4 linked regions of the Homo sapiens genome follow. The protein of the gene in region 1 purifies or fractionates together with the protein of each later gene. This does not show direct contact. Each region holds a gene or a part of one and is shown in the gene's direction. Other genes may lie near its edges.

Region 1 (5,503 bases):
TTGGCTGTGTGACCTTTTACCCCTGTGGGCCCGCACCCGTTCCCGCCATAAAACAGTGCTTCTGAGAAGCACACTTCAGATTCCCACTCGCCCTCTCCCACCCTCCAATTCACCCAAACGTTAGGCTGCTGGGTGAGTGCGCCCGGCTGCTGGGCTGTGGGGTGCCCTGTGTTGCAGGGGAGGTGCGCCCTGTGGGGAGGTGGGGGAGGTGTGCTGTCTTGTGAGATGCATGGTGGGGTGAGGTGCGCTGTGTAGGGAGGTGGGGGGAGGTGCGCTGTATAGGGAGTGGGGGAAGTGCTATGTAGGGAGGTGGGGGAGTGTGCTGTGTAGGGAGGTGGGGGGAGTGCGATGTGTAGGGTGGTGGGGGGAGTGCACTGTGTAGCGTGGTTAGGGGAGGTGCGCTTTGTAGGATGGTAGGGGGAGAGTGTGCTGTGTAGCGTGGTGGGAGGAGGTGCGCCATGTGCGCCGTGTAGGGAGGTGGGGGGAGTGCTCTGTGTAGGGTCGTGGGGGGAGTGTGCTCTGTAGAGTGGTGGGGGAGTGTGCTGTGTAGGGAGGTGGGGGAGGGGAGGTGCACTGTGTAGGGAGGTGGGGGGAAATGCTTAGTGTAGGGTGGTGGGGGGAGTGCGCTGTTGTGAAGTGAGGCACACTGTGCCGTGTGCCATGAGTTAGGAAAGGAGGAGGAAGGCAGAAAGGCAGCTCTGTGCAGAGGTGGGCAGTGGTGTTGGCTGGACCTGGGCTGGAATTCTGGGGGTCACTAGTTAGGTTTCTGTCTCCAGCTAAGCTGCAGACCTCTATTTTCTCCTCTGTGCAATGGGAATAACAACAGTGTTTCTCATAGGGCTGTCTTTAGGATTAACGGAATAATCCGTTGTTGAGCTTATTAGCACTGTGCCTGGTACACAGCAGCCATCTAATCTGCTGGGCCCTCCCTGATGAGGGTGGGGGTCAAGGGAAGGAAAGGGCTTTGAACTCAAGGAAAATAGCCACCTTTTTCCTCTCCTCACAGGGAACCCAGTTTGGCCAGTGGGATACTGCTGGTTTTGAGAACGAGGACCAAAAACTGAAATTTCTCAGACTTATGGGTGGCTTCAAAAACCTGTCCCCTTCGTTCAGCCGCCCCGCCAGCACGATTGCAAGGCCCAACATGGCCCTCGGCAAGAAGGCGGCTGACAGCCTGCAGCAGAATCTGCAGCGGGACTACGACCGGGCCATGAGCTGGAAGTACAGCCGGGGAGCCGGCCTCGGCTTCTCCACCGCCCCCAACAAGATCTTTTACATTGACAGGAACGCTTCCAAGTCAGTCAAGCTGGAAGATTAAACTCTAGAGTTTTGTCCCCCCAAAACTGCCACAATTGCTTTGATTATTCCATTTATGCTGGAGATTACAAATTTTTTTTGTGAAAAAATCAGATCTTGGTGAGGACCTCGAGCAGTAAGATATAAATAACTCCCATAAGCTTAGCGTTCCAGTAATGGAACACTAGGCATAAATGGTTTATTCAGTTGTGCAAATGAAAGCCATCTGACAGTTGGCTCACATTGAACACCTGTGGAGATTAAGGACGAGGACAACTATATTGATGGGCTTGGATGAACTGGGGCAGGGCAGCTCATATTTCGGGAGCCAGGAGAACGAGTGAGTGCTAAAACCTCCTGTTTTCTGTGTTAAACATTCCGTCCCTGTTTGAGACATCAGTATGTACAGTTAACTTTTGTTGAGTGTTTAGCAGGTACTAGGGACATACTAGTGTTTTCCTTAATGTATTTAATCTTCATAATTATGAAATGGGTGCTATTATTAGCCCCATCTTATAGATGAGGCAACTGAGGTTCAGGGATAAAGTAATAAAATTGCCTGGGGTCACCCAGCCACTAAGTGCAGGGTGTTGTACTTTTGTACCCGAAGCCCTAAGTTCACTATTCGCCACTCTGAATGTCCCCTTTAGGGAATTTCCACCAGAATCCTCGTTGGGGATTGAAATGTCTTTAGATGGAGGAAAAAGTTTTATGACAAGTCTGCATCTCTGATAAAAAGTGGAGTGAATGAGGAACGGAGAATCGCAAACTCCTTTTCCTTCCTTTTCCTTTCCCCTGTCATAGAGCAGCTGTAGGCAGAGAGGTGTCTGAGTTGTTACCAAACACATGTGACTGAGCTGCTGCTGCTGGGAAATGTGCCTCTAAACCAGTCCTGCCTTTTCCACTGGTGTCCCTTCGGCCCTAAGTGCTGAGGTAGGATTTTTGTGCTTTGACTGGATTCTGAACAAGGCATTTTAGGAAGAGTGGTTAGTCCCGCAAATGAATCAATGGCAGATCCCAGGGACGTGTGTGTGTGTTTTGAGATAGGCTCTCACTCTGTCACCCAGGCTGGAGTGTAGTGGCATATCACGGCTTGTTGCAACCACTACCTATCCAGCTTAAGTGATCCTCCCACCTCAGCCTCCCAAGTAGCTGGGACTGTGGGTGTGCACCACAACAACCAGCTAGTGTTTAAAATTTTTTGTAGAGATGGGGTCTCACTATATTGTCCAGGCTAGTCCCAAACTCCTGGACTCAACTCATGCTCCTGCCTCAGCCCCCAAGAGCTGGGATCACAGGTGTGAGCCACTGTGCCCAGCCCCAGGGATGTGTCTGATGAGATTCTTTTTTATCACAAGGAAGAGAATCCCAGGTGACTTCTGTAGGTGGATATTGAATGCCAGGAGGAGATGAACGTGTGGAGATGACACGGGAAGTTGCCTCATCGGCTGTGGGGACAGCGTTTCCAAGCCTGGACTCTACAGCAAGCCTCAAAGAGCTCCAGGTCCAGTGGCCCAAGTCGCATGTGACCATCTGTGACCACCTTCTTTCCACTCACCTAGCTTTTTGCATCCCAAAATACAGGTTCTGACTGGGACATTTTCACGATCGTTTGGCCTGAACATGCCTCCTACAGACATCCCAGCCCAGGCAGGCCTCGATGGCCAGAAAGTTCAGTCTCACGTGGCAGGAAGGCCTGATTAGGGCCTGGTTCAACAGCTCGCCAAGGAAGCATTCTCTCCATCATCTCCAGTGTTGGCTTCATCAAGGCTAGTACAAAGATGGCAGTAACAGTTCCAGGCAGCATATCAAGACCCTAGAACATTCCAGAGGAAGAAAAGCCTTTTTGTGTCTCAAGGAAACTTCCAGAAGCCTCCATTGCTGGGCAATGAGTCATCTGCCCATAGCTGCACCCGCCCCTGTCATGGGAAGGCTGGTGATTCCCTTCAGTCAAGAAGAGTGGATGCTGGTGAAGTGGCCATGGTGTCCACAGCTGCCCATTGGGCAGAGGTGAGGCAGGCACTTCAGGCAGTTTCCCTGGCTCTGAACCCTGATCCGCAAGCATTGGCCAGGTCAATAGTTGGACAAGTATGTGCTACAAGGACCTACTTGGGCCACTTCCCTCAGGACGTGAACTTGTCCTGCCTTTCTTTCCTGGATTCAACCTTGAGATACATAATGGGAGAGGCCGTGGAAAGCCCAAGAGGCAGTGTTCTGGATTTGAGTGAGTGCCTTCTGGGCACCTCCTCCTTTGATGGAGAAACAAATCCCTCCTGACCTTGAGCAACACTACAGGAATGTGCCTGGTGTAAACAGGAACCAGCCGTTCGTTTCTTTTTTTTTGAGATGGAGTCTCACGGTCGCGCAGGCTGGAGTGTGGTGGCGTGATCTCGGCTCATTGTAACCTCTGCTTCCTGGGTTCAAGCGATTCTTGTGCCTCAGTCTCCTGAGTAGCTGGAATCGGCCGTTTACTACTCATAGTTTTTATCTTGCCAAGAGGTCACCCTGACGTTGGCCTGCCTTAGCTCTGTTAAAAAGGTTGTGCTCTGCCAGGTGCGGTGACTCACGCCTGTAATCCCAGCACTTTGGGAGGCCAAGGTGGGCGGATCACGAGGTCAAGAGTTCGAGACCAGCCTGACCAACATGGTGAAACCCCGTCTCTACTAAAAATACAAAAATTAGCTGGGTGGGTGTGGTGTCACGGGCTTGTAATCCCGGCTACTCAGGAGGCTGACAGGAGAATCGCTTGAACCCGGGAGGTGGAGGTTGTAGTGAGCTGGGATGGTGCCACTGCACACTCTAGCCCCGGGCAACAGAATGAGACTCTGTCTCAAAAACAAACAAAAAAAAACTGTCTTTGGGTGATTGTGGAGAGGTGATCATATGTCCGCTGTGTTGCTCCCATCCAAGCCCTGGTGACTGGTAGCTCTCATGAGGGTGTGATGGTCAGGCCTTGCCCCTGGTGTAAATTCTGTCTGTAATAGGCTGTGACTTTCTAACTCAACATCACCACTGGCTTAGGAGTTCCATTTGCACAGGGGGAGCTTTATTGCTTTTCTATATACATAAGAACTTTACGTCTCACCAGTGGAGGTTGGGCAGCCAAGACACCACAATGCTGGGTGTCTTCAGAATGGACTTAATCTTGTCCTTTTGCTTTCTGCCAGTGCAGATCACCATCTCTCAGATGAGCAGGACCCCACCCTCTGGCAGTCTTGTCTTGGGAGAATCACTCTGAGCTCCCATCCTTTGTAAATTAACATTGGTTTGAGCACCACCCTCCATCACGGCTGCAGTGAGCCATGATTGCACCACTGTGTTCCAGCCTGGGTGACAGAGCAAGACCCCATTCCAAAAAAAAAAAAAAATTTGCCAAATAGACACAGTCCTCACAAAAGAAGTTGGCAGAATAACACCCCTTCCTACCACATCTCCTCAGAACCTGTGTATTTGTTAGGTTACGAAACAAAAGGGAATTAAGTTTGCTAATCAGCTGACCTTAAAACAGGAAGAGGATCCCGTGTTTCTGGGTGGGCCGGAGGAATCACAAAGATCCCTAAATGTGGAAGAGGAAGGCAAAAAAGAGTCCACATCAAAGAGACTTAAGAAAGACTTGACTAGACACTGCTGGTTTTGAAGATGGGAAGGGAAGGGTCAGAAGCCAAGGAATGTGTGTGCTGTCTAGAAGCTGGAAAAGGCAAGGAAGTAGATTCTCCCCTAGAGCCTCCCAGAAGGAGCGTAGCCCTGCTGATGCCTTAATTTTAGCTCAGTGAGACCAGGCGGACTTAAGACCTATAGAACCGTCAGATGACAACATTATGTTTTAAGCCGCTACAATTGTGGCAATTTGTTAAAGTAACAATAGAAGACCTAATGTAAGTAAGTCTCATGTGGAAGTTGCCATGGTTTTGTTTTTCTTTCTTTTTTTTTTTTTGAGACAGTCTCACTCTCACTCCACGCCCAGGCTGGAGTGCAGAGGCGTGATCTCAGCTCACTGCAACCTCCACCTCCAGGGTTCAAGCGATTCTCCTGCCTCAGCCTCCTGAGAAGCTGGGATTACAGGTGAGCACCACCACACCCAGCTAATTTTTTTTTGTATTTTTAGTAGAGATGGAGTTTCACCATGTTGGCCAGGATGGTCTTGATCTCTTGGCCTCATGATCCACCTACCTCAGCCTCCCAAAGTGTTGGTATTACAGGCATGAGC
Region 2 (5,065 bases), on another chromosome or scaffold:
TTTTGCCAGCGTTCATCCTAAATCCCTCAGAGCCAATGATCCATTACAATGTAGATCCCACTTTGACTTCAGACATTTGGCTGGTGAATATGTTGGCATCAAAACAAGAAAGAAGAGATATTCAGCTTTTGACAAACTGAATTATCATCAAAGAAAGAAGTGGAAATTTCTATGTTAATTAGGAATAGAACCATCTTCACTGATGTTGGGGCATGTAATCATTCAGCAACATATTAAGGGCTAAGATTAGCAAACCAGGAGTATATTGTATTACACTTAATTAAGTCATCAGAATTTTTTAAAGGCAGTGAAACTCCAACAAAGTAAATGAAATTAAGAAGAGTCATTCAAAACTAACATCAACTCTGGAAGTGCAGCTTCTTTATTGCTATCCCACCTCACAAAGGATTTTTAAAACACTAAGCACTTAGATATGCTGTAAATTCAGCAACTTGCACTATGTCTTGTACCCAGCAGATATTCAATAAATGTAGGAGGGAGGGAGGGAAGGAAGGAAGGAGGGCAGGAGGGAAGGAGGGAAGGAGAGAGGGGAGGGAGGGGAGGGAGGGGAGGGGAGGGGAGAAAGGAAGGTTGGTTGTAAACTTCATGACCTAAAAATTATAAATATACACATTTTTCAAATGAAGAAATTGAAACACAATGAGATAAAATAGCTTGTCTCATATAACCCAGCAAAGAATTGTTGGTATTTGGCTTTGAAGTAGAATTACCTGACTATTAAGTTCACTTGATTCATCTCTACAGTGTACTGTAACATAAAGTTAGTTAAGTGTATGGTGATTATTAAGATTTGGGGAGCAACATGGAATGCTGGTTAAAAACTCACTCAGGCCCCTGTAGGGAGACTTAGGTCTTCACTCAGTGGGAAGACTTAGGTCAAGCCCCACTTAGCTAGTTAGCATCTATGTCATCTATGTGTACAACAGAGATAACAATAGAACTCATTTTATCCTGCCACGTGGAATATGCTAAAGGTTTAATAAGTAATAGCTGTTATTATTAAATAATAATGTGTCAAAACTACAGATTATAGGATCATCTAGCTTAGGAAAAATTATGCTCAAAGCCTAGATTTATCAAAAAAACAAGGCTGTAATTTTCCATTAGACATCCACTTCAAAGTCAAGATATCCGTATAATTTTGCCATAATCAAAAATTTTGCTTGTCATTATATTTTTATTTAATTAAATGTCTCAAGTTAATAATGGCAAGGACCACATGATTTTTAAAACACAGTTGTTCTCATTTAGTTCTTCACTGGCAAAAGGAACTTCCTAAAAAATGCATATATAAGGTCTTGTAAATAGTCTACTAACTTAAGATAATCACAAAGAAATGAAATATAGTTAAGACTGAGAAACTGCATGAACCTTCTGACTATTATCCCTCTTCCACCACTAGATTTTTCTTTCCTGCTTTTTTGAAACTTAGATCCAAATCTTAATAGCAGCACTCATTTTCATCATCCTTCAGAAACATCTACTCAATGAAGACAACTGTGAAAAACCATACATAGGATAAGATATATACAAACTTTCAAGCACAAAACAATAATACAATTTCATTATTTCAACCAAAAAATAGAAACATGAAACCCACAACATATAGCAAAGTGATCAAAACAGTCAAGTGAAATTTTAGATATTCTTTACATTACTGGCCATGCATCGTACCTGCGTGCATGTGTGTGTGTGTGGTATTTAGCAATATTTATTTAATTAGGCACTTTTAATTTTAATTATCATTTTTGTTCCCCTAGGTTCTCCTGATCATGTTAGAATTCAGTTTAAAAATATTTGTATTTCGCACATATGGAGGCCTTTGAAATAAAATAGAAAATATGATGAGACTAGCAAATAACAAAAGATGGCCCATTAAATCACTTGGAACAGAAAAAACTCGTGCCAGCTTTTCCTTTGAAATAAAGAGGAAATGGTGCACCACAGGCCCCAGATTGTTTTTCTGAGGTGATAGGATATTATGATTTGTTGTATCTGTTTCCTCAGGAAACAGCAAATGTTGAACAGGTCAATGCTTTTCAGGAATGAAAAAAAATCCAGAAAAAGACTGCCAAATTGGCAAGAACAACTTTCCTATCTTTGAAGAGCATCAACTCGGAAGTTATTTTATTTCCGAATAGCCTTTCTCTTATTGCCAACAGAAATCCATTACAATATATAAGAGCTAAGATTTCTTGTCCCTTTTCACCTTTATTTGCCGTCTTTCAACTGGCAAGAGTCATTTTGACCAGCAGATTAATCAACTGTAAGACAGATCCTCACACAAAGGTAGGTACTTGGAAATATAAACTGAATATTTTTACTTTGAATATTGAAATTTTTCTCAAAGATAACATTTTCAACGATAACATTTTATGGGCTTTTCATAGAACATTCATTATCAGCAAAAACATAAGTAGCTTACATGAAATTGTAAGTCATTAAATGCAATAAATTTTGAAAAATTCTGGTTTTTACAGGTCAGAGTAAAACATTCATGTTGGGCATTTGGGCCAATCGGTCCATCCAAGTACACAATTGACTTTTCCTCCTGATGTACCTTAAAGTTCTTGAAACTTCATAAGGATAGAATAGTCTCAGGTGTACTCTAAAAGACAGAATTGCTCTACAGAATATTTTTATTATTGGTTTTTCTTTTGTTTTTCAAACTTAATTTAAGAATGGATATAGGAAAAGTACTAGTTAAAGGAATAGCCACACCCACATATATATAATTGAATATCCAGTGAAATTTTGTCCATAGGATTCTTTCAAGACTTGCATTGCTCAGACCACACACTCAACCTATGTGCAGAGTTGACTAACAGGAAGCCAATTTGCACCATGGTGTATGGAGTTGCTTTCCCAAAAATCAAGCTATCATGTACTTGAAATATATTGTAAAATTTGACCCAATTGAGAGTAGAATACCTGGACATCTCCATGTTCTTGCCTTGGTCTCTGATATATGGATTTTTGGAAGCACTTTGAGACCACTCATCACAGCCTAAATTAATGTAATAGAATGTTGTTAAAACTAGGAAATATATTATGTGACTCTTCTTTTAGACTATATCCAACAGGGTGATTCCTTTTTTTTTTCCTTATTTTTAAGCTCTTCCAAGCAATAAAATTTGTAACATAAGATCTAGTTAAAATGTTAATATCTCAAACCCATCCATAGAAATCTATAATGTATCTACTATTTTTAAAATATCAAAATGTTCAAATGAAAATAAGTATACATTTTAAAGTAGTTACTTCTAAGGGAAAAACCTTAGTCATAAAAGCTTCTATTGCTCAGAGCAATGTATGAACAACTCTTTGGCATTATCCCCAGGATCAGTTTACAAGTCAAAAATAAAAACTACTTCCACTATTTTGAAGTCAAATTTTATAAGCCTACTAATATTGCCCCACAGTAATACTGAATTCAAAATAACATTAGGCAAATTCCCTAAAAATGCTATAGTAGGATATTTGTATTACATTATATCCAAGTGTTGAGACATTTTAAATAGTACTTTTTAATAAAAAACAATCATACTGATCACCTATTGTGCTTACTTTCAGAGGCAACTGAAAGGATGAAATCACTGACTTGGATCTTGGGCCTTTGGGCTCTTGCAGCGTGTTTCACAGTAAGTATCATTAATCACGATCACACTTCTTTATAGTTTCTCATTAACCATTACTTCAGATTTCTTTTTACATTAATGATGTTACCTTTTCTTATATATTAGTAACTATTAATCATCAATGAAACACTGTTTAGGGCTTAAATTTAAATTTAAAATCTAATTTAAATAACCACACATGTCTGATGGCTGCCATACTGGACAGCTCAAGTCTGTGGTATCAGACTGCATTAAACAGATACGTATAAATGTTAAGTTCCCATACTCTAGTCAGTTACACAGTAGGTAAAACTCTATAAAAATAGATAATCAAAATAAAACCGTTTTCCCAGCATGTAGTTTATGGATCATTTACACCAGAGTCACCTAACTCACTTATTAAAAATATAGTAAAGACCTCATCCAAGCTTCAATAAGAGTATCAGATAATGGGACCTGGAAAGATGCATTTTACTAAGGATCTACAAGTATCTTTGCATGCTAAATTTTGGGAGAATGCTAAGCATTTATATATAAACAGCTACTTTGTATACAAAACCAGGTTAAAGACAAATGAGATACTAAATATCATACAAAATTACAAAAATGTTTTTAAAACACACGTATTTCAAAGTAGTAGAATCATACTCGATTTCAAAGTAGTGTTAGATTAATTCCAGTGACAGAAAGAGAATATTAATTCCAGAGTAATTTCCACCAAAGTACTATAAAATCTATATCAAATTGAAAAATATGAAAGCTGTTTTTTTTAGATTATGACTTCCACAAATCAAGCAACATAAATTTACATCATTCTGAAACATGAAACATAAAATAATTCCTTTTTCATCTACTTTGTTTTTTTTTTTTTTTTTTTTTTTGAAACAGACTCTCGCTCTGTCGCCCAGGCTGGAGTACAGTGGCGCGATCTCGGCTCACTGCAAGCTCCGCCTCCCGGGTTCGCGCCATTCTCCTGCCTCAGCCTCCGGTGTAGCTGGGACTACAGGCGCCCGCCACCACGGCCGGCTAATTTTTTTGTATTTTTAGTAGAGACGGGGTTTCACCGTGTTAGCCAGGATGGTCTCGATCTCCTGACCTCGTGATCCGCCAGCCTCGGCCTCCCAAAGTGCTGGGATTACAGGCGTGAGCCACCGTGCCCGGCCTCATCTACTTTCAAAAAGGAACAAAATCAGGAAATTCTAAGGTTACTGAGGTAGTCTGACCTTGGCTAAATTACTGAGAGCATTATATGTTGACATAATTTTTAATAAACCAATAAAATATATTGATATATTTTAAAGGTAATATCTTAATGGCTTGATTATAAAGCTTATTTTCAATATTTTTATTCCCTCAGAATACAAAAGAAAAACATTTATAATTTCAAAGTATCAGGCTTTTATTATATAAATTTTTTTTTATAAGAT
Region 3 (4,611 bases), on another chromosome or scaffold:
TCATTTTTGATTTCAATCGGTTTTTAAGAACAGTAGGTGTGTGTTACGTGAATAAGTTCCTTAGATGATTTCTGAGATTTCGGTGTATCCATCACTTGAGCAGTGTACACTATACCCAATGTATAGGCTTTTATCTCTCACCCCTCCCCCCAACCCTTTCCCCTGAATCCCCAAAGTTCATTGTGTCATTCTTATGTCTGCATCCTCATAGCTTAGCTCGCATTTAACAGTAAGAACATACCATGTTTGGTTTTCCATTTGTGAATTACTTCAATTAGAATAATGGTCTCCATCCAGGTTGCTGCAAATGCCATTATTTAATTCCTTTTTATGGCTGAGTAGTATTCCATGGTATATATACTACATTTCTTTATCCACTCATTGATTGATGGGCATTTGAGCTGGTTCCATATTTTTGCACTTGTGAATTGTACTGCTGTAAACATGTGTTCAAATATCTTTTTCATATTATGACTTCTTTTCCTCTGGGTAGATACCCAGTAATGGGATTGCTGGATCAAATGGTGGTTCTACTTTTAGTTCTTTAAGGAATCTCCACAGTTTTCCATAGTGGTTGTACTAGTTTACATTCCCACCAGCAGTGTAACAGTGTTGCCTTTTCACCACATCCATGCCAACATCGATTATTTTTTAATTTTTAAATTATGGCCATTCTTGCAGGAGTAAGGTGGTATCACATTGTGGTTTTGATTTGCATTTCCCTAATCATTAGTGATGTTGAGTACGTTTTCATATGTTTGTTGGACTTTGGTATGTCTTTTGAGAATTGTCTATTCATGTCCTAAGCCCAATTTTTGATGGGATTGTTATTTTCTTGCTGATTTGTTTGAGTTCCTTGTAGATTCTGGGTGTTAGTCCTTTTTCAGATGTATGGATTGCAAAAATTTTCTCCCACTCTGTGGGTTGTGTGTTTATTCTACTGATTATTTCTTTTGCTGTGCAGAAGTTTTTTAGTTTAATTAAGCCCGATCTATCTTTGTTTTTGTTGCATTTGCTTTTTGGTTCTTGGTCATGAACTCTTTGCCTAAGCCAATGTCTAGAAAGGTTTTTCCACTGTTATCTTCTAGAATTTTTATGGTTTCAGGTCTTAGATTTAAGTATTTGATCCACCTTGAGTTGATTTTTGTATAAGGTGAAAGATAAGGATTCAGTCTTATTCATCATCTACATTTGGCTTGCCAATTATCCCAGCACCATTTGGTGAATAGGGTGTCCTTTCCCCATTTTATGCTTTTGTTTGCTTTGTCAAAGATCAGTGTAAGTATTTGGGTTTATTTCTGGGTTCTCTATTCTGTTCCACTGGTCTATGTGCTATTTTTATACCAGTACCATGCTGTTTTGGTGACTATGGCCTTATAGTATAGTTTGAAGTCAGGTAATGGGATGCCTCTAGATTTGTTTTTTTTTTTTGCTTAGTCTTGTTTTGGCTCTGCAGATTCTTTTTTGGTTCCACATGAATTTTAGGATTGTTTTTTCTAGTTCTGTGAAGAATGATGGTGGTGTTTTGGTGGGAATTGCATTGAATCTGTGGATTGCTTTTCGCAGTATGGTCATTTTCACAATATTGATTCTACCCATCCATGAGCATGCGATGTGTTTCCATTTGTTTGTGTCATCTATGATTTCTTTCAGCAGTGTTTTGTAGTTTTCCTTGCAGAGGTCTTTCACCTCCTTGATTAGGTATATTTCTGAGTATATATATTTTTTGCAGCTATTATAAAAGGGGTTGAGTTATTGATTTGATTCTCAGCTTGGTTGCTGTTGGTTTATAGCAGAGCTACTGATTTGTTTACATTAATTTTGTATCCTGAAACTTTGCTAAATTCATCTATCAGTTCTAGCAGCTTTTTGGAGGAGTCTTTAGGGTTTTCTAGGTATATGATTACATCATCAGCAAACAGCGACAGTTTGACTTCGCTTTATTGATTTGGATGCCCTTTATTTCTTTCTCTTGTCTGATTGCTCTGGCGAGGACTTCCAGTACTATGTTGAATGCAAGTGGGCATCCTTGTCTTGTTGCAGTTCTCAGGGGAAATGCTTTCAACTTTTTCCCATTCAGTATAGACAGTTTTCATTACCTTAAGGTATGTCCCTTCTATGCCAATTTTGCTGAGGGTTTTAATCATAAAGGGATGCTGGATTTTGTCAAATGTTTTTTGTGTGTCTGTTGAGATGATCATGTGATTTTTTGTTTTTAATTCTATGTGGTGTATCCCATTAATGTCTTGTGTATGTTAAACCACCCCAGTATGAAACCCATTTGATCATGGTGGACTATCTATTTGATATGCTGTTGGATTTGGTTAGCTAGTATTTTGTTAAGGATTTTTGCATCTATATTCATCAAACATGTTGGTCTATAGTTTTCTCTTTTTTGTTATGTCCTTTCCTGGTTTTGGTATTAGGGTGATACTGGCTTCACAGAATGATTTAGGGAGGATTCCTTCTTTCTCTGTCTTGTGAAATAATGTTGATAGGATTGATACCAGTTCTTAGAATGTCTGATAGAATTCATTTGTGAATCCATCTGATTCTGGGCTTATTTTTGTTGGCAGTTTTTTAAATTACCATTTCAATCTCACTGCTTGTTATTGGTCTGTTCAGAGTTTCTCTTTCTTCCTGGTTTAATCTAGGAGGGTGGTATAATTCCAGGAATTTATCCATCTCTTCTAGGTTTTCTAGCTTGAGTATGTAAAGCTGTTCACAGTAGCCTTGAATTATCTTTTGTATTTCTGTGGTATTGGTTGTAATATCTTGTTTCATTTCTAACTGAAGCTTATTTGGATCTTCTTGGTTAATTTTGTTAATAGTCTATCAGTTTTATTTATCTTTTCAAAGAATCAGCTTTTTGTTTATCTTTTGTATTTTTTTGGTTCAATTTCATTCAGTTCTGCTCAGATCTTTATTTCTTTTGTTCTGCTATGTTTGGGTTTGGTTTGTTCTGGTTTTTCCAGTCCTTGAGGTGTGACCTTAGATTGTCTATTTGTGCTCTTTCAGACTTTTTGATGTAGTCATTTAATGCTATGAACTTTCCTCTTAGCACTGCCTTTGCTGTATACCAGAGGTTTTGATAGGTTGTGCTACTATTTTCATTCAGTTCAAATAATTTTTTAACTTCCATCGTGATTTCATTCTTGACCCAGTGATCATTCAGGAGCAGGTTATTTAATTTCCATGTGTTTGTATGTTTTGAGGGTTGCTTTTGGAATTGAGTTCCAATTTTATTCCACCGTGGTCTGAGAGAGTACTTGATATAATTTCAGTTTTCTTAAATTTATTGAAACTTGTTTTGTGGCTTATGATATGGTCTCTCTTGGAGAATGTTCCATGTGCTGATGAATAGAATGTATATTCTGCAGTTGTTGGGTCGAATGTTCTACAAATAGCCCTTAAGTCCATTTGTTCTAGGTTATAGTTTAAATCCATTGTTTCTTTGTTGATGTTCTGTCTTGATTACCTATCTATTGCTGACAGTGGAGTATTGAAGTTCCCCACTATTACTGTGTTGCAGTCTATCTCATTTCTTAGGTGTAACAGTAATTGTTTTATAAATTTGGGAGCTCTGGCATTAGGTGCATATATATATATATATATATATATATATATATATATATATATATATATAATTGTGATATTTTCCTGTTGGGCAAGTCCTTTTATCATTACATAATGTCCGTCTTTCTCTTTTTTAACTGCTGTTTCTTTAACGTTTGTTCTGTCTGATATAAGAACAGCTACTCCTCTATAAGACAGGCCTGCACCTGTAATCCCAGCTACTAAGGAGGCTGAGGCACAAGAATCACTTGAACCTGGGAGGTGGAGGTTGCATTGAGCCAAGATTGAGCCATTGCACTCCAGTCTGGCCGACAGAGTGAGACTCTGTCTCAAACAAAACAAAACAAACAAAAAGAATAGCTACTCCTGCTCACTTTGGTGTCCCTTTGCATGGAATATCTTTTCCCAGCCCTTTACCATAAGTTTATGTTAGTCCTATTTGTTAGGTGAGTCTCTTCAAAACAGCAGATACTTGGTTGGTGACTTCTTACCCATTCTGCCATTCTGAATCTTTTAAATGGAGCATTTAGGCCATTTACATTCAACATTAGTATTCAGATGTGAGGTACTATTCTATTCATCTTGCTATTTGTTGCCCGAATACCTTGGTTTTTATTTATTTATTTATTTATTGTGTTTTTGTTTTATAGGTCCTATGAGATTTATGCTTTAAGAAGGTTCTATTTTGGTGTATTTCAAGGATTTGTTTCAATATTTAGTGCTCCTTTTAGCATTTCTTACAGTGCTGGGTTTGTAGTGGCGAATTTTCTCAGCATTTGTTTGTCTGAAAAAGACTGTATCTCTCCTTCATTTATGAAGCTTAGTTTTGCTGTACACAAAATTCTTAGATGATGATTCTTTTGTTTAAGGAGGCTGAAGGTAGGGCCTCAATTTCTTCTAGCTTGTAGGGTTTCTGCTGAGGAATCTGCTGTTAATCTGACATGTTTTCCTTTATAAGTTATCTGGTGCTTTTGCCTCACAGCTCTTAAGATTCTTTCCTTCATCTTCGCTTTAGATAACCTGATGACTCTGTGC
Region 4 (4,611 bases), about 15 Mb from region 1:
GGCATTAAGCTGGGTGTTATGGAAAGGAAGAGGCTCCCTGCCTGAGGTAACTTGTGCTTAGGAATAACAGAGGCAATATGGTTGGCCCAAACTTCATTAGCTAAATGAATAATTACACAAGTCTGAAACAAAAATGGGAACTCAGTCTCATAAGGAGCCTGAAAGCCATTGTTTCCTTATGTTTTTTGTTGTTGTTGTTGTTGTTGTTGTTCTTGTTTGGTTTCTTGATTTTTTTTTGAGAAAGGGTTGGAGTGCAGTATCACGGACATGGCTTACTGCATCCTTGACTTCCCAGGCTCAGGTAATCCTCCCACCTCAGCAGTCCGAGTAGCTGGGACCACAGTTGTGTGCCACCATGCCCTGCTAAATTTTTTACTTTTTTTTTTTTTTTTTTTTTTTTTTTTTGTAGAGACAAGTTCTCGCCATGTTTCCCAGGCTGGTCGCAAACTCCTGGGCTCAAGTGATCCTCCCACCTCGGCCTCCCGAAGTACTGGCATTATGGGCATGAGCCACAGCGCCGAGCCCCGATTTTTTTTTTAATGCTAAAAGACTAGATTAATAAACTGTGATCCTTGTTTATAACAAGTGCTAGAAATAGGACACAGAAAATTGGAGTTGAGTTAATTTCAGAGCTTAACCAGGCAAACAGGTGAAGCCAGTGGTGATGTGCTTGCTCAAGACAAAAATAGCCTGGATGGTGGTGGTGATGATATAATTTCTAACTGACGAAGGTTCTTTGGAGGGTTGTAAACAAGTGGGATACAAAGCAACTGCTAAATGCAATATTTTTAACTTTTTAAACTCCTTTGCTAGAGTTCTACATTTTAAACTATAAAAATGAAGTCACTGTGGTACTAATGTGTTATCTTTTTGTGGGTAGGCAGTTAACTTAGAGAAAGGAAATAAAGGGTAAAGATGTACAGTACTTCTCTAAAGAAGGAACACTTCCTTAGTGATCAGTGCTGGGGCAGATTTTATTTTGTGTTTTTCTATGAAGGTAAGATCTCCAGATTGGCTGGTGGCAGCAGATTACTTTGGGGAAAGAGCTCTGGATTGGTTACCAGCCTAATGTGCATTCAGGTACCGGTTCCACCTTGCTCCCTGATTTGGGCAAGCTATTTCACCTTTCTGAGCCTCTGTGTCCTCTACATAAGGGGATGATACCCCCTACCTCATAGTTAGGAAGGAAAAGTAGTATCTCTTGTGTAGAGTGTGGCTTGCCATACAGCAGGTATTAGCACACATTGGTCCAGGATGCCTTTAAGTATGGAAAACTGAGAGAGATGGAGACTCTCCCTATGGGAGAGAGAGAGAGTGTGTGTGTGTGTGTTTGTTTGAAAAGAAAGGAATATGAGAGTTGGAAGTTCCTAAAGGATGTCAGCCAGGTTTGCTCTTTTTACCAAAAAGGCTTTGAGTACAAAACCATGCATCATTCCACCTTTATGTAAAACTGTATGCGCCTCATCAGGAATACTCTATGGACTTCAGATCATGCTTTCAAAGGGATCTCTTAGAATTGGCCAAGATCCAGAAAAGGGAACTGAGTCAGACAAAAGAGCAGGACTCTTCAATGTGGAAAAGCAAAGACTGAAGGAATCACGGGATCAGGAGGTAGGAAACAGCGAATGGCCTAGAGGAGTTTGGCGATGGGCACTGCAAGTGGATTGTGGTATGACTGTGTTAGGACCAGGGTGAGGAGCACTGCATAAAAGGGGCGTTTAAGAGGTGGTGTAAACAGGTATTGCAAGGGGATTTTTTAGGGATGAGAACTAACTTGTGAAGACAAAGCCATAAGTGGCTCCTGTAGAAGCTGGACTGCACCTCGCCTTTAACACTTGACATCAGGGAGGGGGCATGTGGTCCAGGCACATCCTGGGTGGGGGCACCATTGGTTACTGGACCCTGGCCCAGGTGGATAGGGTCTGACCCAGTGGAGTGTCCTCCGTTCCTGAGAAATACAGGATTTGGTCAAAGATGTTCAGTTTCAAAATTGACACACTACTTAGGCAAAAAAAAGTGTAGTTATACTTTTTTAATATTTGCAAGGTCTTTTATTAAAGAGCAGAAAGAACGGCTCCTTATGACAAGATAATCAGTGATTACAATCTTTTAGAAACCTGATTTTTCTCTCTCCACATCTCTGCCAAAATATCTAACAAATTGTGTTGACATCCCACTGTTAGGAGAGGGCCAGACCTTCCTAATCAGGTGTCCTGGTGAGAGGAGGACTTCTTTATACGGATTCGGCTCCCTGAGCGAGATGGCCAAGACAAAACTGCCCACGTAATTTTTGTATTTTCATGGAAATACGAAGGGGATATAATTTCAGCAAAACCCTGCCAGCTTCACTTGGTGACTACAACCAAAGATTATGTGTCAAGTGCACGAGGGTCCCTCTCTGACAGGTCTGATTAGTGGTGACCCCCCCATCAGAGTAGAGACAGAGCTCACGGTTTAAAAGTTTCATCGGGGCCAGGCGTGATGGCTCACACCCGTAATCCCAACACTTCAAGAGGCAGAGGCAGAAGCATCACTCAAGCCTAAGAGTTCAAGGCCAGCCTGGGTAACATGGCAAGACCCATCTCTACAAAAAATTTAAAAATAAAAAATTTAAAGCTACCATGCCGGCTTGTTCTCACCTTTATACTCTATGCTTGTGTGTGTGTTTGTGTGTGTGTGTGTGCTTTTTCTCTGTCTGTCTCCCTCCCCCTGCCATCTTCTCCCCGCCCTTTCTCCTTTTCTCTTTCTCTTAGCTTCACGGCTTCAGCCCAGGTCACCTGTCTATCCGAAGGCTGAAACACAGGTGAGAGGGTTCATGCGTAGTAGCATGTACCTGTAGTCTCAGCTACTTGGGAGACTGAAGCAGAAGGATCGCTTGAGCCTGGGAGGTCAAGGCTACAGTGAACTGTGATTGAGGCACTGTATTCCAGCCTGGGTGACAGAGCAGGACCCTGTCTTTTAAAAAAGAAGAGTTTTGGCCAGGCACGGTGGCTCACATCTGTAATCCCAGAACTTTCAAAGGGCAAGTCAGGCGGATCACGAGGTCAGGAGATCAAGACCATGCTGGCTAACATGGTGAAACCCCGTCTCTCCTAAAAATACAAAAAAATTAGCTGGGCGTGGTGGCGGGCACCTGTAGTCCCAGCTACTCGGGTGGCTGAGGCAGGAGAATGGCGTGAACCCCAGAGGCAGAGCTTGCCGTAAGTCGAGATCGCGCCACTGCACTCCAGCCTGGGCAACAGAGTGAGACTCTGTCTCAAAAAAAAAAAAAGAAAAGTTTCATCAGTGGCTGTGGATGATGATGGAATGGAGGGAGTGTTCATTTAAATTACAGGTGCTTAGAAGCCACCAGAAACCAACCGGTTCAACAGATTGTGGACAAACAGTGGAGAAGCTGCAAGTGCCTACCTGCGAGTTTCCATAGCAGTCTTCCCCTCCAGTCCTCACAGCAGCCCTTTCAGGAAGTGCACAGGGTCATCTTTCTGGTTCTTATTTTTTCACAGATGAGGAAACTGAGAGACCAGTGGTCCTTTTCCACCAAGCCACATCTAAGGTGGACCGGTCTCGCTGGATGTGAGGTGTCTGAGTCAGTACTGAAAGTAGCTGCTCTAGAAGAATATGTGGTTAATAATTAGAAGCATAGCAGCTTGGAAGCATCCCTTTTTCGTTTCACCTGGCACCTGATTTGTGTGTGTTTTTTTCTGGTGCCTTTATTTCTGAAGAACTTGGCCTGTAACACCTCAGTAATCTTCAGCCCCTTTGGATGGATTTTTTTTAAAAAGGCACCCATAGAAATTGTTTACTAAGTATTCACCAAATCCAAATGGAGAAGCAAACCCACACCTTCTGGCCCCATCTTTGTTCTCACCTGTATTTTTATTCTTATCTTTATTTATTTATTTATTTATTTATTTATTTATTTATTTATTTTTTGAGATGGAGTCTCGCTCTGTCGCCAGGCTGGAATGCAGTGGCACGATCTTGGCTCACTGCAACCTCCGCCTCCTGGGTTCAAGCGATTATCCTGCCTCAGCCTCCGGAGTAGCTGGGATTACAGGCGCATGCCACCGCACCTAGCTAATTTTGTATTTTTAGTAGAGACAGGGTTTCACCGTGTTGGCCAGGGTGGTCTCAATCTCTTGACCTCGGCCTCCCAAAGTGCTAGGATTATAGGCGTGAGCTACCGTGCCGGCTTGTTCTCACCTTTATACTCTATGCTTGTGTGTGTGTGCTTTTTCTCTGTCTGTCTCCCTCCCCCTGCCATCTTCTCCCCGTCCTTTCTCCTTTTCTCTTTCTCTTAGCTTCACGGCTTCACCCCGGGTCACCTGTCTATGTGAAGGCTGAAACACATGTGACAGCGTTCAAGATTAGTCATAGGCTGACATCTTTAATATACAGTATCTACATGTATGATTTTCTTTTTTTTTTTTTAAAGACCAAGTCTTGCTCTGTCGCCCATGCTGGAGTGCAGTAGCACGATCTGCACTCACTACAACCTCCACCTCCCGGGTTCAAGCAGTTCCTGCCGCAGCCTCCTAAGTAGCTGGGATTACAGACGTGTGCTACCACAACTGGCTAATTTTTGTGTTTTCTGGTAGAGATGGGGTTTCG

The links. The genes of interacting proteins can lie anywhere in the genome.
Region 2: the proteins of KNOP1 (region 1) and SMR3B purify together in Homo sapiens (co-immunoprecipitation; one large-scale study listed by IntAct). This does not show direct contact.
Region 3: the proteins of KNOP1 (region 1) and PDGFRL purify together in Homo sapiens (co-immunoprecipitation; one large-scale study listed by IntAct). This does not show direct contact.
Region 4: the proteins of KNOP1 (region 1) and GLYR1 purify together in Homo sapiens (affinity purification with mass spectrometry; one large-scale study listed by BioGRID and IntAct). This does not show direct contact.

The regions. Positions count from the first base shown.
Region 1 is NC_000016.10:19,702,725-19,708,227, reverse strand, and holds part of KNOP1 (lysine-rich nucleolar protein 1), read left to right. Parts: intron 1-1,006; coding exon 1,007-1,318; 3' UTR 1,319-5,503.
Region 2 is NC_000004.12:70,380,903-70,385,967, forward strand, and holds the start of SMR3B (submaxillary gland androgen-regulated protein 3B precursor), read left to right. Parts: upstream 1-2,228; 5' UTR 2,229-2,310; intron 2,311-3,594; 5' UTR 3,595-3,608; coding exon 3,609-3,662; intron 3,663-5,065.
Region 3 is NC_000008.11:17,635,142-17,639,752, forward strand, and holds part of PDGFRL (platelet-derived growth factor receptor-like protein precursor), read left to right. Parts: intron 1-4,611.
Region 4 is NC_000016.10:4,837,252-4,841,862, reverse strand, and holds part of GLYR1 (cytokine-like nuclear factor N-PAC), read left to right. Parts: intron 1-472; exon of another isoform or gene 473-1,611; intron 1,612-2,183; exon of another isoform or gene 2,184-2,620; intron 2,621-4,611. UniProt on the Homo sapiens protein: Cytokine-like nuclear factor with chromatin gene reader activity involved in chromatin modification and regulation of gene expression. Acts as a nucleosome-destabilizing factor that is recruited to genes during transcriptional activation.